Homo sapiens: one gene and its partners. The protein of the gene in region 2 interacts with the protein of the main gene of each other region in a biochemical or structural test. Each region holds a gene or a part of one and is shown on either strand. Other genes may lie near its edges. The genes, in order: MAPK7, NFE2L2, TRIM41, ENC1, MAFK, UBE2E2 and TIGAR.

Region 1 (2,547 bases), on a different chromosome or scaffold from region 2:
GCAGTGCAGTGTGAACAGGGCCCATGGTGTATTCTAGGCCACAGCCCAGCACTCCTCTGGGCTGCTCTCAAACCATGTCCCATCTTCAGCATCCCTCCCACCAACTTACTCCCCTGTGGTGAGTACCGTGGAACCCCAGCCCACCTCACTATCATACTCAGCTTCCCCTGATGGCCCATCCCAGCCCCTGAAGCTCTATGCCAAGAACACAGCTACCGCACACCACCCTGAAACAGCCACAGCCAAGGTAGGCATGCATATGAGGTCTTCCCCATACCCTCTGGGTGTTGAGAGGTTTAGCCACATGAGGGAGCAGAGGACAATCTCTGCAGGGCTGGGAGTGGGTAGGGACTGAAGGTCTCAATAAACCTTCAGAACCTGAATGAACTGGCTTCATACACACAAACATATTTGTTTATCCCCCAAATGTAGGCACCTGGCTCCTCCTTGCTCCCCTGCTGATGGTGTCCTACCCCGAACTCCAAAAATTACACCTGGAGTCAGGTGCAGAAGGGAACCTTGTATTTCACAGGCCTCATTTTGATGGCAAAAAGACAGTGTAATAATAACATAATAATAATAAAAATATAATACTGAAAAGGATTGTTCAGGGGGAGTTGGGGTCTCCCGATCCTGCCATGGCTCGGTGGTGGCTCAGGTGGCTGCTTAAGGCTGAAAGGTGGGTCTGAGATGAACCTGCAGAATAATCCAAGCCGAGCCTCACCTGCTGGGTCCAGGGCTAAAGCCTTTGAGAATGCTCCCATGGATCCTGGAACTAGGTCTACTGTGGCAGCAAGGCACAGGCTGGGGGCCTCAGGGGTCCTGGAGGTCAGGCAGGTCAGCCAGCAGCATTGGGGAGTCCATCTGGATCTCACGCTGCAGGGACTCAATATCGGCAGGGTTCATGCCATGGCCTTCGAGCCAGTCAGCAAGCAGGGAGGCTGAGAGAGAGGCTGAATCTGCCTGGCTGCAGGGGAAGGAAAGGGAGGGGTGCTATTAGCCTAGGCTGGACCCTCACCCATCCCACAGGTGCATGTCTCCTGCACCAGGAACCTCTCCCCACAGTCCCAGTCTAGGAGCTCAGTCCAGCCACCTTACCCATCCTGTGGCCCATCAGCCACGCCCATGTCGAAAGACTGGTTTAAGAATTCCTCCAGGTCAAAGCCAACACCGTAGCCAGCCCCACTGCCCTTTGGTGTGCCTGAGAACACAGGGGGCAGGGGGTCCTCCACCTGCAGGGAATGACAGGTTACAATGCAGACAGACTGAGGTCTGTAGGCCACCCTGTCCCAATGCTGCTGACTACTCCGCCTGGATATCTGGGAGTGCTAACACCAGTCTCGGCAGTCAGTGAGTGCTGGCTGGCCCCATCTCTGGGCTAGGCACTTTGCAGGCCATATTTAACTTGTCTCCTAACAACCTCTTCATTGCCATTATGCTCCTTCTGTGAGCAAGAGGACACGTTCAGAGATAAAGCCCCATCTGCTGCTCAGTTTTTGTGGAACACTGACCGCTTCCTGAACCCATTTTCCTTTGGCCCAGACCCAGGTGTCCCCATGGCCTGGGCCTCCCTCTCACCTGTGACTTAGATAGCTGCTGGGTCACAAGGTTGACATCAGGTGACTCTGACATGGAAGACTGAGGGGCTCCCCCGGCGTCTGGGGGCGGCAGGCCAGGTGGGAAGTAAGGCAAAACTCCTGGGGTGCTGGAGCCAGGCAGCCCAGGGGGTGGCACAAGTGACTGGGCAGCCAGGAGGCTGGTGGAGGTGGCAATCTGGGGTGGCGCGGGGACAGGGATGGGCCCAGGAGGGCCAGTGGGGTGGGGTGCAGGGCCAGGGGGTGGGCAGGCAGGCTGGGGTACAGGGCCAGAGGTAGAGCCCGCAGATTGTGGTTGCGGGCCAGTGGGCTGGGCTACAGGGCCAGGAGGAGGACTGGTAGGTTGGACTGGGGTTGGGGTTGGCGTTGGCGCTGGGGCAGGGGCCGGCACAGAGGTGAGGGCTGGGGCTGCGGGCCGGGCCATTCGAGTCCAGCGTTCCAACAGGCTTCTGTCATTGTCACTGAGCACTAGTCCAGCCAAGGGGTCAGTGGAGGGGCCCCCAGAGGCCCCAGCCCCCCGTTCCTTTCGCTCCCGCTCCTGCCGCCGTTTCTCCCGCTCCTTGGCTCGTTCTTGCCGCCTCCGCCGCTTCTCCTCCCGCTCCCGCTGGCGCTCCTGGGCTGTCACCGGCTTCCGAGGCTCAGGAGCCTCCAGGGGTGCGCTGGGGCCATCTGCGGGGAAGTTGGGCAGGGGAGAAGGTAAAAGCCTGAAGCCTTGTCCAAGTCCAAGTCTCCCCTCTGCCCACCCGACCTGCCCACAAGGCACCTCTGAGCCGGCTCCTCAAAGACTTGAGCAGGGCAGCTTTAAGGGCAGCCTTAGTATTGTCTGAGATGGCACCATCTTTCTTTGGTGGGGCAGGCTCACTGACTGGTGGAGGTGGCTGCAGGGTCAGATCAATGGTGTCAGGTGCAGGGCCGGGGCATGGTGGCGGGGCTGGTGGTGGAGACTCCATGG
Region 2 (3,500 bases):
ATGGAATAGTATGCAGCCATAAAAAGGAATGACGCTATTGATATACGTTGCAACATTTTTAAACCTTGAAAACATATTGCTGTGAAAGAAGCCAGCAACAGAAGGATAAATACTGTATGATTCCATTTACATGCTATTCCATTTACATGATATGTCCAGAATAGGCAAATCCATAGGTACAGAAAATAACTGAGTAGTTACCAGGGGCCAGGAGAGTTGAGGGGAAATGGGAAGTGACTGCTAATGGATATGGGGTTTCTTTTGAGGGTGTTGAAAATTGATTACAGTGATGGTTGCATAACTCTATGAATAAACTACTAAATTCATAGGGTTGCATAACCCTGAATTAGATTAAATGGGTAAATTGTAAGGTACGTAAATTGTATCTTACTTTAAAATACATATATATCTATAAATTCTATCTACTATAGAGGAAAAAAAAACAGATACATAAGTAAGACAAGTATCAACAGAGATTTAAAATGCCATTAGAGAGGATCACCTAAGTAATACAGAAGGTAAACACTATAAACTCAGAGGAGGCATCAAAGCCTAAGTGATCCATATTTTTCTTTTCTTACTCATTTTTCTTCTCTGATTTGAAAAAGCAATAGAGTTCAGAGCTTGTCAGTGTACAGCTGATAATACAGGCCCTAAAGTCTCAGTTCTCACCTTATTTGGAATGGCTATTTAGCATTGTCTTAGAATTAAAAACAAATATTCAGAATACAGGCTGTTGATGGACTGTAATGACTCTCAAGAGTCAATTATCAACAGAGCCTTTGAAAGATGGACTTGGAGGTCAGGCGCAGTGGCTCACGCCTATAATCCCAGCACTTTCGGAGACCAAGGTGGGCACATCACCTGAGGTCGGGATCAGCCTGGCCAACATAGTGAAACTCCATCTCTACTAAAAATACAAAAATTAACCGGGCGTGGCGGCACACACTTGTAATCCCAGCTACTTGGGAGGCTGAGGCAGGAGAATCGCTTGAACTCGGGAGGTGGAGGGTGCAGTGAGCCCAGACTGTACCAATGCACTCCAGCCTGGGTGACCGACTGAGACTCTGTCTCAAAAAAAAAAGACGAACTTGGTGCTGTAAGTCCTACTTATGCCCTGGACTTGTCTTTACTAGTACCAGCAGTTTGGACCAAATAAACTTACATGCTCAAATACACAAAAAGACTTTTAAATACCAGGATTTGCAACACACAGGTATTATAGTACATATGCCGTAAAAACGAATGATTAAACGTGCCTCCCCTACTCAAAGTTCTTAATATACTTAATAATCATAGTTAAGAGTTATTTATTATGGCAGAAACTGACACACAGAAGGCTCAAACTTTAGGTAGCACAGGATTTTGTTTAACAGTCTTGTTTTCATGTCTAGGGTATAGTCTGGTACAAGAAATCCATCTAGGCCAGGCGCGGTGGCTTAAGCTTGTAATCCCAGCACTTTGGGAGGCTGAGGCAGGCGGATCATGAGGTCAGGAGATCGAGATCATCCTGGCTAACACAGTGAAACCCCATCTCTACTAAAAATACAAAAAATTAGCCAGGCGTGGTGGCGGGTGCCTGTAGTACCAGCTACTCGGGAGGCTGGGGCAGGAGAATGGCGTGAACCCGGGAGGTGGAGCTTGCAGTGAGCGGAGATCATGCCACTGCACTCCAGCCTGGGCGACAGAGCAAGACTGCGTCTCAAAAAAAAAAGCCATCTGTATTTCTCCAAGTTTCTGAATGTTAATATTTAATATTATACACTTGAACATATTTTTGCTTTCATTTACAGAAAACATACCATTAGCAATTGAATAAATCTTGGCCTATACCTTAAAGCCCTTTTAATAAATGTTTGTTGGCGCTTATTTAAAAGCAGGTAGCAGTGAAATTTCAATAGCTCCTAGAAATTAGATGATCAAAGAATAAACTCTATTCTCTATTTGTGGCAAACTTATAATGAATATACATTTCTACAGTCAGAGATGAAGACAAGCAGGTTAAAAATGACATCTAGTAAACTTGTCCTCCTCTACCCTGCTGTGCAACATATTTCAGTCAACTTTCAGAAAGTGGCTGGACCAAGCATTTAAATGCCCTGAGGTTGACCTGGACCAACTTTTAGGCAAATCATCCATCAGATCCTATAAGTCCTGCAGCACACTTAATTCAGACAAATAAGACAATAATTCCAAAAACAACTTAACAATAAGGACTAAGAAAGTGTTTAATTTTGAGATGTACTATTCTCAAAGACCCAAGTAAGCTTCAACTAGATAAGAGTTGAGCCCTTATGCTTGCTATAGTTCAGAAGTGCCAAAACATGAGATTAGGGTTGAATTTGCGCCATCAGCTTTCTGCTAGCTGTTTTCAACTCAAATTTTCCCCATTCTGCTCTCTTTCCTTCAGCCTGGTTTAACCCTGTCTGTCACACTCTTCACCATATTCTTACTACCAAACTTATTTTTGAGCACTACTTCAAAACAAAAAGAGCCAATGGAACAGAAGAAATGTACCAAGTAGCAAGGCAAACAAAGGCAAAGACTCCAGTAGCTAAGAGATTTAATTAAGAAAAAAGGCAGTTTCTGAAAAATGTGAGGCAGAATCTTGGACATTGCCAAACATCAGAAATTTTTAAAACTATTATTATATTAAGAAACAGACTGGCGCAGTGGCTCACACCTGTAATCCCAACACTTTGGGAGGCCGAGGCGGGTGGATCACCTGAGGTCAGGAGTTCGAGACCAGCCCAGCCTGGCCAACATGGTAAAACCCCATCTCTACTAAAAATACAAAAATTAGCCGGGCAGTGGGTGCCTATAATCCCAGCTACTCGGGAGGCTGAAGCAGGAGAATCACTTGAACCCGGGAAGTAGAGGCTGCAGTGAGCCAAGATCAGGCCACTGCATTCCAGCCTGGGCAACAGAACAAGACTTCATCTCAAAAAAAAAAAAAAACAAAAAACAAAAAACAGTCCTGCCTTTCTAAATTGAATCCACCGAGGCCTCTGTGTCTTCCTTAAAAGGACCACAGTGGGTACCATTGATGGATTGTATTCACTCTCCCTGTATTTAACAAGGTCCACCTCCCCACGTCACATACAGTGATTAAATGTCTTGCTAAATGGAAAAGCTGCAGACATTAATCTTTTATATTCCGGCCTCTCCTTCCCCCAGAATAGGCAAATCTCAACTTACCCACTTTTTAAAGTGTGAGCTTTTCTTCCTATTTAGAGTTTAAGGAGTTTTGGTACAGTCTGGAAGTGGTGATTAGAAGCCCCCAGGAGTCAAACCTGTTTGAATGCTACCTTGGCCACTCAATAGTATGGTCACCTTAGCAGGTCCTGGCCTTTCTCTATGCCTCTCTCCTAACCTTTCCTAACCTAATGCCTGATCTAACTATTATGCCTGGTTTTCCCAACCTGGAAACCAGGGATAATAATATTTCCCGTGAGGTTACTGTAAAATTATGCATGTGAAGCAATTATGTCTGGCACCCA
Region 3 (3,500 bases), on a different chromosome or scaffold from region 2:
CCACCCCCAACATCCTCTGTGATCCCAAGAAATATCTAATACATGAGTTCCCAGGGCACCAATGACAGGTGTGCCTCCTCCAGGACACTGCGGAGTCCCTGCCCACACTCTACTTATTTCAACTTCTTTGCTTCTTTCTGCTCATCTGCTTTCTCTCCTGCTCAATTACTTGCTAAATGGCAAAGGACACCGAAACCCCTCTTCCAAAGGTTGTAACTGTTATAGCCAATAGGCACACGAGCTCTGTGTTTCTACAATTTGTAGCCAAATACTTTTCTTTAAAGGGCTGTTAGCCCAGAATGAGTGGAATAAGCCCTACCTATTTGCTCTTACCTTTTCTATGTCTTCTACTAGCCTGTCTCCTTTTCTTTGAGAGAGAATATAGGGTAGGAGAGCTCCAGCCTGACTCCAGTCAGGACCAGAGGGAAGTGAAGTGACCTCAGGCAAGCCATGCTTTCAGTTTCCTCAGCTTCAAATAAGAAGAGAATGGACCTCATGGATAGCACACTTACTGCAGTGCCTGGCATGTAGCAGAAGATCAGTAAATGTTATCTAATATTTGTTCCCTATACCTTAAGCTGCCAGTGACATCCTGATAATGACCCCTGAACTAAAGAGTTTACCAAGCCAGAGTGCAAACAGCAGTTGCTGCACAGGATAAGTGGTTGTAGACAAAATTACAGTAATAATGGAATTATAGTCAACTCGTGACAATAGCATGAACTACACAAAATTTGGCCTTCTGATATAACTTTCTACTTTTCTAGTCAATAATTTCTCCATTAATTCAGAATTTATAACGCTTAAATTTACCATTTACTGTTTTTTTTTTTTTTTTTTTTTTTTTGAGACAGAGTCTTGCTCTGTCGCCTAGAATGGAGTGCAGCAGTGCCATCTCGGCTCGCTGCAACATCCAACTCCTGGGTTCAAGCAATTCTCCTGCCTCAGCCTCCCGAGTAGCTGAGATTAAAGGTGCCCACCACCACACCTGGCTAATTTTTGTATTTTTAGTAGAGACAGGGTTTCACCATGTTGGCCAGGCTGGTCTTAACTCCTGCCCTCAAGTGATCTGCCCACCTCTGCCTCCCAAAGTGCTGGGACTACAGGTGTGAGCCACCGTGCCGGGACCCTAAATTGCTGACAAAAACAAAAATTAATAAGCACAAATTCAAACAGAGTTCTATTTAAGATATATTTCCTTTTTTTTTTTTTTTTTTTTTTTGAGATGGGAGTCTCGCTGTGTTGCCCAGGCTGGAATGCAGTAGCACAATCTTGGCTCACTGCAACCTCTGCCTCCCAGGTTCAAGCGATTCTCTTGCCCCAGCCTCCCGAGTAGCTGGGATTACAGGCACATGCCATCATGCTGGCTAATTTTGTATTTTTAGTAGAGACGGAATTTCACCATGTTGGCCAGGCTGGTCTTGAACTCCTGACTTCAAGTGATCCACCTGCCTCAGCCTCCCAAAGTGCTGGGATTACAGGCGTGAGCCACCACAGCCAGCCAGTTATAAGAGAAATTCTCAAAACATTTTTTCTTTTTTTTTTTGAGACAGAGTCTCGCTCTGTTGTCCAGGCTGGAGTGCAGTGGCGTGATCTCAGCTCACTGCAAGCTCCACCGCCCCCGGGTTCACGCCATTCTCCTGCCTCAGCCTCCCGAGTAGCTGGGACTACAGGCACCCGCCACCATGCCCGGCCAACTTTCAAAACATTTAACTGTCGGGCAGACACAGTAATCCCAGCACTTTGAGGGGCCAAAATGGGAAGATTGCTTGAGGCCAGTGGTTCAAGACCAGCCTGAGCAACACAGCAAGACCCTGTCTCCACGAAAAAAAAAAAAAAAAAATTAGCTGGGCATGATGGCACACACCTCCAGTCCCAGCTACTACTCAGGATCACCTGAACCCAGAAGGTCAAGGCTGCAGTGAGCTATGATCATGCTACTGCATTCTAGCCTGGCCAGAGTGAGACCCTGTCTCAAAAAAAACAAAACAAACATGTAACTGTTCAGGAACTATATTTACATATCATTTGTGTGTTATTACCTATTCAACAAAAAAAATTTTTACAAAACATTTTGCCAAGCTACTGGTTACTGCATGTACATATCTGAAAAGAATAAATGACCCACTTGTGGCTGGGCGCGGTGCTCACGCCTGTAATCCCAGCACTTTGGGAGGCCGAGACGGGCAAATCAGAAGGTCAGGAGATCGATACCATCCTGGCTAACATGGTGAAATCCTGTCTCTACTAAAAATACAAAAAAATTAGCCAGGCGTGGTGGCAGTCGCCTGTAGTCCCAGCTACCTGGGAGGCTGAGGCAGGAGAATGGCGTGAACCTGGGATGCGGAGCTTGCAGTGAGCCGAGAACACGCCACTGGACTCCAGCCTGGGCGACAGAGCGAGACTCCATCTCAAAAAAAATAAAAATAAAAAAATAAATGACCCACTTGTAAAATAGCCTATTAAGTCAGAAAGGGAATCACTCAAATTAGTCCTATACAATAAAACTATGTATTTACATTTACTCATCACTTAATGTCAGATTAAATATGTGTATATGGCCTCCCAAACTGCAGAGCGCAGTAAACAGATCAAGAAAAGAGAGTATGGCCAGGCGCAGTGGTTCACGCCTGCAATCCTAGCACTTTGGGAGGCCAAGTTGGGCGGATCACCTGAGGTCAGGCGTTCGAGATCAGTCTGACCAACATGGAGAAATCCCGTCTCTACTAAAAATACAAAAAATTAGCCAGGTGTGGTGGCACATGCCTGTAATCCCAGCTACTCGGGAGGCTGAGGCAGGAGAATCGCTTGAATCCGAGGCAGAGGTTGCGGTGAGCCAAGATTGTGCCATTGCACTCCAGCCTGGGCAACAAGAGTGAAATTCTGTCTCAAAAAAAAAAAAAGGGGGGAAAAGAAAAGAGATTATGACTTTTTTTAATTCCTCACCTACTTCAGGACCTAATACGGGATTTCAGGCAGCTGGCATTGAACAAATTTGGCTAATGCAAATTAAAATCCAGTTTCAGAAGCTCCTTGGAGCAGTCCTACAGGGGGAGGTGAAAGAGAAAGGGTGGAATGCCCATGGATAGTTTGGCCTGGGTTCCTGTTCACAAAGTGACCACACATGATATGATGGGTATGGTTAACTAGGAACTGAGGAGATGGAAAGGACAACAGGACCTCACAATCTCTGCTAAAAATGCAGGGACTAACAGCTAGGCAATGTTACCAATGCAGTGATCCCCATGCTAGACTGGGCTTTTTAAAGATATTCTCCTACTCACTGATTCAGAAACTCTAGTGGTAGGATCCACTGTATTTTTGAAAACCTCCCCTAGTAATTCCAACAATCAGGCAGGTTTAACAATCTTTGTGTAGCCAGGCACAGTGGCTCATGTCTGTAATCCCAGCACTTTGGGAGGCCAAAACAGGCGGATCACCTGAGGTCAGGAATTTCAGAACAGCCTGGCCAACACGGTGAAACCCCATCTCTACTAAAA
Region 4 (3,500 bases), on a different chromosome or scaffold from region 2:
CATTTCATAGAGCTTGCATTTCCTCACACTGCTTACTCTTCCCATTTATTTATTTCTCATTTCATCTGGGGAAATTGTGCAGAGGGCTTTTGTATCCCTATTGCTGTAAGTCTAAGTACAGACAAAGGGAATTCTGGAGGAGCCACTCATGACCTTGCACTGAATTCTTTGCTTTTGTGTGTTCAGAAGCCTGATTCATTTCATGAGTTGTTTCTTTTGGCTGTTTCCTAACAGTGATTCAAGCTTTCAAGGCATGCCTTAGACTACGGTGTCATTGCCCCACCTCCACCTCCTTGTAACCTATATGTCAACATTAGGCCAAAAGAATGTATCTTATAATAATATAAAATTTCAAGACAATGCATATTCAAACAGGAAAAAAGGAATACACACACCCTCCCCCCAAAAAATTGCATATTCAAACAGGAACGATAATAAAAAAAAAAAGGACACACAACAACAACAACAACAACAAAATCTAGAGAAGAAACAAAGCAAATCAAAGCCTAAGTTAGGTTGAGGCCACACGGCACCATGAAAACAGAGGATAATCAAAGTAATTTCCTTTCTGCCCTTCCCACCCACTGGCAGAGCAGCAGGAGGCAGATAAAACCTCCTAGGTGGATGAGCTTTAAGACCTAGGGAAACTTTCTGTTAAACACTCTATTAATTCCGTTAGCACCTACATTTGGAGGGCAGAGGAATTTGCAGTTTGGGACTGAGACCCACCTACCCAGCACTTTAAGGCACTCCAACCCCCTCTTAAATGTTTTAGCACTATCTTGTGTAGTAAACTTTAGAAATTTTAACCAACATTCTCCCTGTCGGAAATTCAAAGAGTGGCTTTGATCAGGCGCTTACGCTGCCCTTTAAAAGCAGCAAACTTGGCCCTGTCAAATTTAGTTTTCATGTGCTTGACTCTCTCACTGGTAGCGCCAAGGGTGAAGAGGATGTTATTTCACATATAACTTAACACTTTACTTGCTCTGTTTCCCAGCGACCGGAAGGGTATGATTCAGTTCAAACACCCAGGGTAGGGTGAAGTCAAGTGTTTGCCAACATGTTCACTCTGGGCTGAAAAAGGAGGAACCAAAAGTGAAGTCTAAAGATAACAAGCAGATAATAGTCAAAGAAACCTCATTTTCCTACCACACAGAAAGCTAATTCCACTGCCATTATCTCACAGTAAGTTACTACACGTCAAGCACTGGGCTAGGTATTTTCGCCTCTTTTAACTCCCCTATCAATTGACCCAAGTCTGAGTTGGGACAGATCACAGGAGATTAAAGATCAAACCACTCATTTGACAGAGAAGCAACCTAAAACTCAGGAAGGTCTAGAACTTAAAACTAGGGCCAGAATACACATGTGGCTTCTCTCCTCTTTCTGCCTCAATTTCCTTACCTTGTTCCAAGGATTCCAGCCAGCCTGCCCATTGTCATTTTTTATGTACCACCACCCTGGTAGCAATTTTTATGGCTCTTCTGTGCAAATATAGTCAGTTCTGGACTAACACCCAACTAAGTGTGCTGTTAATTGATGCTTTCGCCTAGGAGGTTCTTTAAACCTGCTTTAGAGGTGAGTCATGCATTCATATCTCAAATGAAATAACCACTTTCAGAGCATTTGTTTATTCAAGATTACTGAGATGCCAGCAAGGCTACAAAAAACCAGTTTGGTGTGAGACACTATTAGCCCAGTTGCTCCCCAGAGGAGGTGTCTGATTGTTCCTGCTGCTTTGAAGGAGTTTCATTCCAGGAAAGCATGACATAACTCAGAACTCTGATAACTGTACGAAGGCTGGAAGAGATAACTGAAGAAGTAAAAAAAATAGCAAGCTGGAGGCCAAGTGCGGTGGCTCACGCCTGTAATCCCAGCACTTTGGGAGGCTGAGATGGGTGGATCACTTGAGGTCAGGAGTTCAAGACCAGCTTTACCAACATGGTGAAACCCCATCTCTACTAAAAATACAAAAAAGCCCGACGTGGTGGCGGGCACTGTAATCCCAGCTACTTGGAAGGCTGAGGCAGGAGAATCCCTTGAACCCAGGAGGCGGAGGTTGCAGCGAGCTGAGATAGCACCATTGCACCCCAGCCTGGGAAATAGAATAAGACTCTGTCTCAAAAAGAAAATAAAATGGCAAGCTGAAATGTGAGAGTGAGGCCAAGTTTAATGATGTTTCTAAATGAGCTGTAAGGGACAGGGAAAGAAAAGACCAATGAGATGAAACCCCTCTGTGCTTAGCTTGCCACTAGGCCTAGATCTCCTTTTCTCCCTTTGAAGTCCCCTTCAAAGGTGTGAAACATACTAGGGAAAACAGAGCCAAAAGTTCCCAAGTAAATGAGTTTGTTTTCATTGTAGTTCCTCCAAAGCAGTTACTTTCTTCTCTTATTATTAGTAATAAGCCCATGAATCACCAAAACAAGTCAACACATCCTGTGTGCGCTGGGCTATACTTACACATGCCTAAGCGATTCCTGGGGCCAATCCTAAGAATGCTTAGCAGCAAAGCAGCCGTGAGCTTTGCGAACTCTGAACTGTGTAGGCCTATTAATTATTTGAGCCAAGAGTATTCTATACTCTTAAATACACAGACAACTATTATGTACTCAGATATATGACTCAGAAACACAACTTTTGTTAGCCTTGACAATAGGGTCGGCCTGACTGATTAACTCTGAAAGGCCATAGTTTGGGAAGTTTAGGTGGCTCTGTGTTATCTGCACAAATTTCTGCTATGTACATGCAACCTTTTACAAAGACAGATATAGATTTATCTTTAAAGGTAATAAACGCCTTAAAGGGGGCTACTTTTTAAGTAAAACATTTAAAATAAGCTAATAATTTTGGAGAGAATAAACTAGGAATGAATTTGAGCAATACATTTTTAAACCCTAATCATTCTACAAAGGGTTTGAGGAAGCAAAATTTGAATATAAATGAAGTATCACCTGGGATGACATTGGTGTCATGGATGTGAAGCTCAAGTTTATTCGGTGGCAGTGCAACACGATGCTCCAGTGCTGATGCCCTAGAGCCAGACCCCCTGCATTGACTTCCTAACCAGCTCCACCTCTTACTAAGCTCTGCTAACTCGGGCAGCTTAGCCTCCGTAATGCATGAAGGTTTTTTCATCTATAAAATGAAGCTAGTAATAATTCCCCACGGGGTTGTTGTGAGGATAGAATGAGATGATCCGTGGGAAACACGTGGCACCGCTGCAAGCACACAGTGAGGGCTCAATAAACATTAGCTGGCATACTTAACAGAGGTCAGGGGTTCTCAACTTGGTTGTTCATTGGAATCATCCGGAAACTTTTTAAAAATACTGATGCTTGGACCCCACCCCAGACCAAATGAAACTAAGTCTCTGGGATGGGCAGTTTTTAAAAAAGCTCTTCAGGGCCGGGTGCGGTGGCTTATGCCTGTAATCCCAGCACTTTGTGAGGCCGAGGCGGGCGGATCATGAGGTCAGGAGATCAAGACCATCCTGGCCAACA
Region 5 (3,500 bases), on a different chromosome or scaffold from region 2:
GACGTGTGGGGCTCGGCCAGATGCCAGGGGCAGAGTTCAGCGTGGGGATCTTTCCACTAAAAAGATGCCTCCGCGATGCCCTGTGACACTGCGGAGGCACACGGTAGCCGGGGGCGCCCCAGGAGGGGTGGCTGACTACTTCCAGGAGGTCAAGGTTGCCAGGGCTACTGAAGCACGCCTGTGCCCCGCTCCAACCCCAGTACTTCGAGGCACACCTGCACTGGGGCCCTCTGAAGAATGAGGACCTGGCGGACGCAGGGCTCCCAGGCGGCCCCCACGCTGTGCTCGCAAGCCTGCCCCCCACCTCCTTGGGCAGGTCACGACTCTGCTCTGCCGAGGAAGCCTGGACCAGCCACGCGCCTGGAGAGACGACGCAGCGGGACGGCCCAGCCAAGCAGCAAAGCTTCTCTCAGGAACCCAGCACGGGATGGGATGGTGCTGGCGCCTCCCTCTCCCCACCATGCACAGAATAAATCCAAGTAGCCTTAACCTAATGTCGCTTTAAACATCAGAGGCAAGAAAGATGACAGCTTGCTTTTGGAAGGACATTCAGAGAAGAGTTTTGTATGCACAAAAAAAGTTTGTAAAGCAACTGATCTAAAAATGACGACTGCCCTAAATGGGGTTTTGTGAACTGTCCGACCTCACATGGCCTCCAGGGCCGCCAGAGCACATGTAGAAAGCGCTCCCACCCCAGGGCCAGAGACGCAGCCTTAGGGTGTCATCCAGGGGGAAAGCGTGCCTGGGGTCGCAGAGACGCCCGTGCACTACCCCGGGCCCAAGGCAGGGGCTACTGCATTAGCACCTGGTCAGCACTGCAGCCAAGCTCCCCTCCAGCAGCCCCCGAGGAACGACGTCCTCGCATTGTGTCTTACGCCCAGCAGCTAACAAAACACCAGCATCGCCACGCACAAGCACCCGACACCCCGAGCTCCTCTGAGTTTCGGTGGTCACCAGAGAAGTGCAGTGTTCAGCGCCACAGCGGGGGCCTGGGTGGGCGGGTCTGAGTTTCCGCTGTGGGGCCCCAGCAGCCGACGTAAGTAAGGGTGCAGCGCTCACGCCCCACGTCCCGGGAGCAGCGCCGGGCAGCAAAGTTCTCCGGCACCACCTATAACTTGGAACAGCTCTCAGGTAACTGGTTTTCGGATGGAAGAGGCAGGGTTTTCAACCCAAGGCCAGACACCTCGACGTGACGCAGAACTAAACAAGGCTCAGCGGGGGCATCACTTCCTCTCAAGGAAAAGGAACTGCCAGCAGCCTCAGACAGAGGCAATTCCTGCGGCTGCAGCTGGGGATGAGTGACGGAGCCAGGACGCCGGGCGCCCCTTTCCAGGATCCAGACTGAGGGCCTGGGCTCCATAAAGCGCAGGGCAGGGCGGCTCCGCCCAGGAAGGCACCTTGCAGAGGGTGAGGATCAGAGCCCTGGGCTCCCCCCGGCAGGGCAGGCAGCCCAGGGTCAGTCGTCCAGAACTGTGCTTTCAGGAGCAGGTGATCCCCAGGCAGCCACCTCAGCTTCTGGAGGATCATGTTTTCCCTTTTAATTTTCATTTTAGAGACAAGGTGTCACTCTGTCACCCAGGCTGGAGTGCAGTGGTGAAATCACAGCTCACTGCAGACCTCCTGAGCTCAAGCGATCCTCCTGCCTCAGCCTCCCGAGCAGCTGGGACTACGGGTGGGCACCCCCACACCCAGAGAATTTTAAACTTTTTTGTAGAGACAGGGTCTCACCATGTTGCCTAGGCTGGTCTCGAGCTCCTGGACTCAAGTGATCTTCCTGCCTCAGTCTCCCAAAGTGCTGGGATTACAGGTATGAGCCACCATGCCCGGCCATTTTTAACTTTTTAAGTCCCAGCAAATACTCACTGGTCACCCATGGGCCTGACCCTGCTCAGTGGGGGGCTGGCAGCCTTGGCACCTCTTGCTGTGCTGGCACAAGCTGAGAAGGACCTGCTTTGGGGTCCAGGAGGGAACATTTTCTCCACCAAGTTGGGACTGGGCACAGTGGCTCTTGCCTGTAATAGCAACGCCTCCGGAGGCCGAATGCTCGAGCCCAGTAGTTTCAGGCCAGCCTGGGCAACATAACAAGGCCCCATCTCTACAAAAAAAAAAAAAAAAAGAATTTTAAATAGCCAGTTGTGATGGCACATATGTGCCTATGGTCCCGGCTACTCGGGAGGCTGAGGTGGGAGGATTGCTTGAGCCTCGAAGTCGAGATTGCAGTGAGCTGTGATCACACCACTGCACTCCAGCAGCCTGAGTGACAGGGCAAGACCTTATCTTTTAGGAAAAAAAAAAAGAGAGAGTGCAAAAGTGAGTTGAGCAGCTGACGGCTGGATGACCCCTCTGAACGGTCCCGGCTGTGGATGCCCATAGAGAAACGGGGATTTCAGCTTTGGGGCTCTGATTCTTCCCAGATGAGAGGACGCATCGGGGCTGCCGCTCGCTCTACGAGGCCAGCATGGGGGCTCTGGATGGGTCACTTGTTCTTGCCCAAGGGGTGAATGATGACACAGACTCCATGCCCCACCCCCTCAGCTGCCCAGCCAGTCTGACCAAGACGGAGTGGCCCTTCCACTTCTATTCTCCGCGGGTCTCCGAGGATGTGGGATGCGGGAGAGGGAGGAGGGGCAGGAGGAAGACCAGGAACGGAGGACGGGAGCTCTGTGCGAGAGACACGGGTTCAGAAACCCAGCAGCACAGCAGCAAGCGCCCTCCCGCCCCCCGACCAGTGACTCCCACGGCAGGTGCAATCCACAAAACCAGAGGCCACCCAAGGTGTACCCGCCTCTCCCAGGAGCCTTTCTGCCAGAGACCCCAAGCCGGGTGCCCTCCACACTGGGCCGCAAGGGTAGGTGGGGCCGCTGTGGCACTGGTACCCAGTGGGTGCCTGTCAAACAGGTGTCAACCGACTAATTGCAGCCCAGCTGGTCCCAGAGACCAGCCAGACACCCTTCCTACTGAGGATGAGGTCCTACACTGCGAGGGCCCCCACTGTCCGGCTGTCCCGGACACAGCCCCACTAAGCATGCGGGAGGCACCCCACTTGGCACCCCGCAGCCCGGCCCATACCAGCCAGCAGCCTGGCCCTGGCTGGCTGCCCTCCAGCAAGCCATGACTGTCGGCCCGGCTTGGAGGACGTCTGGTCACCTTGCATTTGCAGTCTGAGGAAGCTGTGTCATTCCGCTACATCCAGAGGTGACTCAGGCAGCTGCAGCAGCAGAGAGCAGACTGCAGAACACACCACACCCCCTCCAGTCCCCGCCCTGGCTCCCACCACACCATCCTCCTGTCCTCGGCCTCCAGCTCCCCATCAGCATCCTGTTCTCCCCCGGCCGCCCTGGGGCTTCAATCCGCTCCCAGCCTCTAAGTCCAGTCAGGGGCATTCCGGGGGGCCCAGATGCCCCCCAGCCCCCAACCGCATCATTCACCGGAGTTGCCCCTGCCCCTCTCTCTTTTCCTCATCCACGCGCCAACCAGGCTTGATCCCAGCCCTCAAGCAT
Region 6 (3,500 bases), on a different chromosome or scaffold from region 2:
TTGTGGGCCCATTTGGTGTCCCAAATACTCTGGGTAACAATATCAACAACACATTACCATTTATAAATGGCTTTCACATATACCATCTCATTTTAACCTCAGAGGAATCCAGTGATTTAGGCAGGGCTGGTACTAATCCCAATTTTATATCAAAAACTAAGCCTGTGGAAAGTTAAGTGACCCATCCAATGTGATATGACTAATAAACAATTAAACTGGTTTTCAAATCTACATCTGCTGTCTACAAATATCATGCTGATAAGGATGGGTAGTCATACCCTAAAGAACATCTGTGTTGGAATGGACCAAAAATTCTTTAAAGAGACAAGTGCAAATTACAAAAAGAGTATGAAAAAGATTTAGAAAATAAGTTTATGTATGGATAAGAGTGAGAAAGTATTTTTTAAGTGAGTTAAATTTGTATCATTATACAAGGCCTATTTTTGAGGTGACAGCATTTCCGGGTTAAAATAGCTCTACAGATTCAGTGTAGGAAAATCTTATTTATTCCTATTCTATCAAACTTGTTTTTGTGATAATTTGAAGATAGATTTAAGATAAACTTCAATCTAACCTAATCTTTCCTACCTCTGTAGGTAAAAAAACCTACAGAGATTGAAAGTGTACCAGATAACAGTGTGAAATAAGTCCATTAAGCAAAAGAATGGACATTTGACTACTTTAAAATAAACAACTCTATTTAAGATTCTAGAAGTGTCAACATTCATAAAAACCAATTAGGAAACTTTATTTTTATGTGTTAAAAAGTGTGATAAACTAAATGTTAGCATGTATTTTACAAATTCTCTTCTAGTCTCATATGAGGCAGGCTGTCTTTGGTTTTATGGAACATTATTTTTAGGCTTGTTCTTACTATCAATAGCATTATTTCAAAATCTATTTCTTTTACTTATGTGGTTCTGCTTTAGTTAGGAGTGATTTTTAAGTTTTTGCAGAATGCATTTGTAATTTTCTGAAACGGAGCAAAAAAAAAAAACTAGTTCACTGAACAGAAGTCTTTTTGATTGCTGAGAGAAGGCTTTGGTGGAATGAATCTATTCCTTTAAGCAGGAATATCTGTAGAGAGAACAGGCTGTCATATACAGGCTTATTCAGGGTAACAGATTCCATTTCAGCTGACTTGGAGGCAAAGCAGGCCAGGCTTCGAAATCACCTCAAAAAAAAAAAAAAAAAAAAAGCCTTCTTGCAACATTACCTCCAAATGAGGTTATACAAGGTTATACACAGTCACAGACAAATGGGATTAAAATGGGAACAACAGGACTGAAAGAACAAAATTAACTTTAAATTAGTATAACATTATTGGACTTTACTGTCTGTAGTAAAGTATGAATTAATTCAAAAAATATTTTATAATGATCCTGCACAATTTTATTTTTTGGGCAGGCTGGGTACAGTGGCTCATGCCTGTAATCCCAGCACTTTGGGGGGCCAAAGCGGGCGGATCACAAGGTCAGGAGTTCGAGACCTGGCTGGCCAACACGGTGAAACCCCGTCTCTACTAAAAGTACAAAAATAAGCTGGGCTTGGCGGCACACGGCTGTAATCCCAGCTACTTGGGGGGCTAAGATAGGAGAATCGCTTGAATCCAGGAGGCGGAGGTTGCGGGAGCCAAGATCGTGCCACTGCACTCCAGCCTGGGTGACACAGTGAGACTCAGTTTCAAAAAAAAAAAAAAAAAAAAAATACTAATTTGCTACTTTAAAAAAGATTTTACTGCTGAAAAATAAAGAAATATAAAAGTAGAAAGACTGTTATTTCTTGATGTTTTATAAAACAGCCAGGATCCTAAGCAACCCCACTGATACTCGTCATTTCCATTTGTGTAAAATTTCATGTATCCAGTGAACAGAGTTTACTCATGATTGTAGAAGAGGGAATCTCATGCAATATTTAAGCTATTAATTACTCATAAAATAATTCTCCCACTGAGAACATCAATGAAAACCCTATAGCTATCTTTGGATTTTTGTATTTTCTAAAATAAACCCAATTTGTAAAGACATGGCCCAGGAATTAAGAATTTTCAGTGGTAAGCACACCAGCAAGCCATAAAGGCCTGGCTATAGACTTTTTCGTTTTCTTGGGAGGTGTATTTCCTTGTTTACTTTTGGGGTATTTCCTAGAACAGACCATTCAGGACCGTTATAATAGCTTGTCAGGATGCACAGTTACTAGGATGCCAAAAAGGTCACGTCTGCATGGTGCTGCCTGGTTGTTATCAGATTTTAATAGCCCACATTCCTCAAATTAACATCTTCTAGTAGGCATCTAATTAAAGATTAAGCTATTCAACTTGAATTTTTATTATTATTTGGCAGGATAACTTAATTCATTCTTTAAACGTACTTTCCCATCTAAAATGATTTTTCATTATTTTTTTTACCACACTATACTTTTTCCTTTTTGGCAAATGATAGGTCTTAAAAACACTAATGAGAAGACCCAATTTAAAAAGAAAATAGTTACATACTATGAAAATTTAACAATAATAGTAGTAGAAGCAGTGGTGGTAGTGGTAGTAGCAGTAGTAAACAAGTTACTAAGGGTCTGACATTTAAATCTTGACAAGCTCCAATTCATACTAGATTTAAAGTCTCTTACCAGGGTTGCAATCTGTAAGAAGTGAGCAGATGGAGAGGAGAACTTTAGAAATAGTTAAAGCCGGACTCCAGTTGTCCTTTAAGATGTCCAGACAGATCACACCTTGGCTGTTAATATTACAGTGATAGATTCTTGTTCGGAAGGTAACCTACAAGAAAATGTAAAGTTATATTTTGTTAGACAAAGTGTTTATTAACAGTATCTATAGACAATTTTTGTCTAATAAAATTGCCTATTTTATCAGACAAAATAGCCCAGGCTATTGGTTAACATACACTTGATTTTTTTCTTGGGCACATGAGATTAATCAACAGAGATCATCATTTTAGAATTTGTCATTTTGGGCACAGAGAAATAAACATCAACAGCAAAACCATGACATTCTGCTTCTTATAAAGAGTCCTGTTATTTAACAAATGTTTTAGGGACTGAATTTACTTTTGATACAACTACAGGAATGTTCATGGGGAGAAACTGACTCTGACTTCTAAAAAATTTCAAAGAAAACTTTTGTTAGATTCCAGTTATTTTAAGGATTTTGTACATTTATAATATTCAAACACCAAAAAGCATGAGAGTACTAATACAAAGAAAATAAATATTATTCTATAACAGTTTTTTTTTCTTTTTTTTTTTTTTTGAGATAGAGTTTCGCTCTGTTGCCCAGGCTGGAGTGCAGTGGCGTGATCTTTGCTCACTGCAACCTCCACCTCCCGGGTTCAAGCGATTGTCCTGCCTCAGCCTCCCAAGTAGCTGGGATTAGAGGTGCCCGCCACCACACCCAGCTAATTTTTGTATTTTTAGTAGAGACAGGGTTTTGCCATGTTGGCCAGGCTGGTCTTGAACTCCTGACCTCAAGTCATCCGCCTGCCTTG
Region 7 (3,500 bases), on a different chromosome or scaffold from region 2:
TTATATGTACTGTCAATATTTCCTTGTATTTTCCTAAACCTTTACCAACTTCTTTGCTCACTATTCTTTTCTGAAACTCAGATCTCCCTTCTGCAATTATTTTCCTTCTTTTTCATTTTTCCTTTCAAAGTTACTTCAGAATCTCTTTGTCTGAAATGTCATTTCACCTACACAGCAGAAAAAAATCTTGCTGGGTATAAAACTCTAGGTTAATCCTTGTTATTTCTCAGCACAATAAAGAAATCATCAATATGAACAAATTTGCTGACAGCCTAACTAATGGTCTTTAATAAAGGATGGTTTTTTCCTCATTCTTTGGAGTCTTGCAATTTTGCTATAATGAATGTAGATATGGGTTTCTTTACTTATCCTGGTTGGGATTTGGTACACTTCTTGGATCTTTCAACAATTCTGTAAATTCTGTAAAATTGTCAATATTCTGTAACCTCTGAATATCACCTCTTCCTCCCATTCTCTCTGCTATCTCTTTCTGAAAGACATTAGAACTTCTCATCATGCTCTTCATGTCTTCTAATGTCTCCTATTTTATTTATTTTTTAAAGGGACTTTTTTTTTTGAGACAGGGTCTCGCTCTGTCACCCAGGCTGGAGTGAAGTGACACAATCACGATTCACTGCAGCCTCAACTACCTGAGCTCAAGTGATCCTCCCACCCCAGCCTCCCAAGTAGCTGGGACTACAGGCAAGTGCCACCACACTCAGCTAACTTTTTTATTTTCTGTAGAGACAAGGTCTCCCTATGTTGCCCAGGCTGGTCTCAAACTCCTGAGCTCAAGTGATCTTCCCGCTTCGGCCTCCCAAAGTGCTGCAATTTCAGGCATCAGCCACTGTGCCCAGCTAAACTCTCATATTTTAAATCTATCATGCCGTGCTACATTTAGGTTATTATCATATATTTATCTATAATGATCACTTCAGCCGTGTGTGATCTATACTTCAGTACTTCCACTGAGGTTTTCATTTTTTGGCTTTTTTCTGTTTGTATTTTAATTTTTAATTTTTGTGGGTATACAGTAAATGTATATATTTATGGGGCACATGAGACACTTTGATACAGCCATGCAATGCATGACAATCACATCCTGGTAAGCAGGGTATCCATCCCCATAAGCATTTATCCTTTTTGTTACGAATGATCCAATTATATCCTTTTAGTTATTTTCAAATGTACAATTACATTGTTATTGACTATAGCCACCCTGTTGCGCTATCAAATACTAGGTCTTATTCATTCTTTCTTTTTGTACCCATTAACCATCCCCACTTCCCCAACACCTCCCCCTACTACCTTTCCCAGACTCTGGTAACCATCCTTCTACTCTCTATCTCCATGAGTTCAATTGTTTTAATTTTTTGCTCCAACAAATAAGTGAGAACATGACAAGTTTGTCTTTCTGTGCCTGGCTTACTTCACTTAACATAATGACCTCCAGTTCCATCCATGTTGTTGCAAATGACAGGATCTCATTCTTCTCTGTGGTTGAAAAGTACTTCATTGTTTGTGTGTGTACATTTCCTTTATCCATTCATCTGCTGATGGACATTTGGATTATTTCCAAATCTTGGCTACTGTAAAAAGTGCTGCAATATGGGAGTGCAGATATCTCTTCAATATCCTGATTTCCTTTCTTTGGGTACATACCTAGCAGTGGAACTTCTGGATCACATGGTAGCTCTATTTTTAGTTTTTTGAGGAACCTCCCTCCAAACAATTCTTCACAGTGGTTGTACTAATTCACATTCCCACCAACAGCATACAAGTGTTCCCTTTCCTCCATGGCCTTGCCTGCATGTGTTATTGCCTGTCTTTTGGATAAAAGCCATTTTAACTGGGGTAAAATACTCATTGTAGTTTGGATATGCATTTCTCTGATTACCAATGATGTTGAGCACTTTTTCATATGTCTCTTTGTCATTTTTTTTTAATATATATTTTTTATTATACTTTAAGTTCTAGGGTACATGTGCACGACGTGCAGGTTTGTTACATATGTATACATGTGCCATGTTGGTGTGCTGCATCCATTAACTCGCCATTTACATTAGGTATATCTACTAATGCTATCCCTCCCCCGTCCCCCCATCCCACAACAGGCCCTGGTGTGTGATGTTCCCCTTCCTGTGTCCAAGTGTTCTCATTGTTCAATTCCCACCTACGAGTGAGAAAACGCGGTGTTTGGTTTTTTGTCCTTGCCATGGTTTGCTGAGAATGATGGTTTCCAGCTTCATCTATGTCCCTACAGAGGACATGAACTCATCCTTTTTTATGGCTGCATAGTATTCCATGGTGTATATGTGCCACATTTTCTTAATCCAGTCTATCATTATTGGACATTTGGGTTGGTTCCAAGTCTTTGCTATTGTGAATAGTGCCGCAATAAACATACATGTGTATGTGTCTTTATAGCACATGATTTATAATCCTTTGGGTATATACCCAGAAATGGGATGGCTGGGTCAAATGGTATTTCTAGTTCTAGATCCCTGAGGAATTGCCACACTGTCTTCCACAATGGTTGAACTTGTTTACAGTCCCACCAACAGTGTAAAAGTGTTCCTATTTCTCCACATCCTCTCCAGCACCTGTTGTTTCCTGACTTTTTAATGATTGCCATTCTAACTGGTGTGAGACGGTATCTCATTGTGGTTTTGATTTGCATTTCTCTGATGGCCAGTGATGATGAGCATTTTTTCATCTGTCTGTTGGCTACATAAACTTCTTCTTTTGAGAAGTGTCTGTTCATATCCTTTGCCCACTTGTTGATGGGGTTGTTTTTTTCTTGCAAATTTGTTTGAGTTCTTTGTAGATTCTGGATATAAGCCCTTTGTCAGATGAGTAGATTGGAAAAATTTTCTCCCATTCTGTAGGTTGCCTGTTCACTCTGATGGTAGTTTCTTTTGCTGTGCAGAAGCTCTTTAGTTTAATTAGATCCCATTCGTCAACTTTGGCTTTTGTTGCCATTGCTTTTGGTGTTTTAGTCATGAAGTCCTTGCCCATGCCTATGTCCTGAATGGTATTGCCTAGGTTTTCTTCTAGGGTTTTTATGGTTTTAGGTCTAACATGTAAGTCTTTACTCCATCTTGAATTAATTTTTGTATAAGGTGTAAGGAAGGGATCCAGTTTCAGCTTTCTACATATGGCTAGCCAGTTTTCCCAGCACCATTTGTTGAATAGGGAATCCTTTCCCCATTTCTTGTTTTTGTCAGGTTTGTCAAAGTTCAGATAGTTGTAGATGTGTGGTATTATTTCTGAGGGCTCTGTTCTGTTCCATTGGTCTATATCTCTGTTTTGGTACCAGTACCATGCTGTTTTGGTTACTGTAGCCTTGTAGCATAGTTTGAAGTCAGGTAGCGTGATGCCTCCAGCTTTGTTCTTTTGGCTTAGGATTGACTTGGCAATGTGGGCTCTTTTTTGGTTCCATATGAACTTTAAAGTAGTTTTTTCCAAGTCTGTGAAGAAAGTCATTGGTAGCTCGAAGG

Evidence for each region.
Region 1: the proteins of NFE2L2 (region 2) and MAPK7 form a complex in vitro, tested with the Homo sapiens proteins (one study listed by BioGRID).
Region 3: the proteins of NFE2L2 (region 2) and TRIM41 form a complex in vitro, tested with the Homo sapiens proteins (one study listed by BioGRID).
Region 4: the proteins of NFE2L2 (region 2) and ENC1 form a complex in vitro, tested with the Homo sapiens proteins (2 studies listed by BioGRID).
Region 5: the proteins of NFE2L2 (region 2) and MAFK form a complex in vitro, tested with the Homo sapiens proteins (one study listed by BioGRID).
Region 6: the proteins of NFE2L2 (region 2) and UBE2E2 form a complex in vitro, tested with the Homo sapiens proteins (one study listed by BioGRID).
Region 7: the proteins of NFE2L2 (region 2) and TIGAR form a complex in vitro, tested with the Homo sapiens proteins (one study listed by BioGRID).

The regions. Positions count from the first base shown.
Region 1 is NC_000017.11:19,381,498-19,384,044, reverse strand, and holds the end of MAPK7 (mitogen-activated protein kinase 7), read right to left. Parts: coding exon 2,359-2,547; intron 2,265-2,358; coding exon 1,579-2,264; intron 1,233-1,578; coding exon 1,099-1,232; coding exon of another isoform or gene 1,095-1,098; intron 968-1,094; coding exon 814-967; 3' UTR 501-813; downstream 1-500. UniProt on the Homo sapiens protein: Plays a role in various cellular processes such as proliferation, differentiation and cell survival. The upstream activator of MAPK7 is the MAPK kinase MAP2K5.
Region 2 is NC_000002.12:177,258,228-177,261,727, forward strand, and holds part of NFE2L2 (nuclear factor erythroid 2-related factor 2), read right to left. Parts: intron 1-3,500.
Region 3 is NC_000005.10:181,226,281-181,229,780, reverse strand, and holds part of TRIM41 (E3 ubiquitin-protein ligase TRIM41), read right to left. Parts: intron 1-3,500.
Region 4 is NC_000005.10:74,630,729-74,634,228, forward strand, and holds part of ENC1 (ectoderm-neural cortex protein 1), read right to left. Parts: intron 1-3,500. UniProt on the Homo sapiens protein: Actin-binding protein involved in the regulation of neuronal process formation and in differentiation of neural crest cells.
Region 5 is NC_000007.14:1,533,702-1,537,201, reverse strand, and holds part of MAFK (transcription factor MafK), read right to left. Parts: exon of another isoform or gene 2,322-3,500; intron 1-2,321. UniProt on the Homo sapiens protein: Since they lack a putative transactivation domain, the small Mafs behave as transcriptional repressors when they dimerize among themselves.
Region 6 is NC_000003.12:23,531,827-23,535,326, reverse strand, and holds part of UBE2E2 (ubiquitin-conjugating enzyme E2 E2), read right to left. Parts: intron 2,774-3,500; coding exon 2,626-2,773; intron 1,175-2,625; coding exon of another isoform or gene 1,113-1,174; exon of another isoform or gene 1-1,112.
Region 7 is NC_000012.12:4,345,213-4,348,712, reverse strand, and holds part of TIGAR (fructose-2,6-bisphosphatase TIGAR), read right to left. Parts: intron 1-3,500.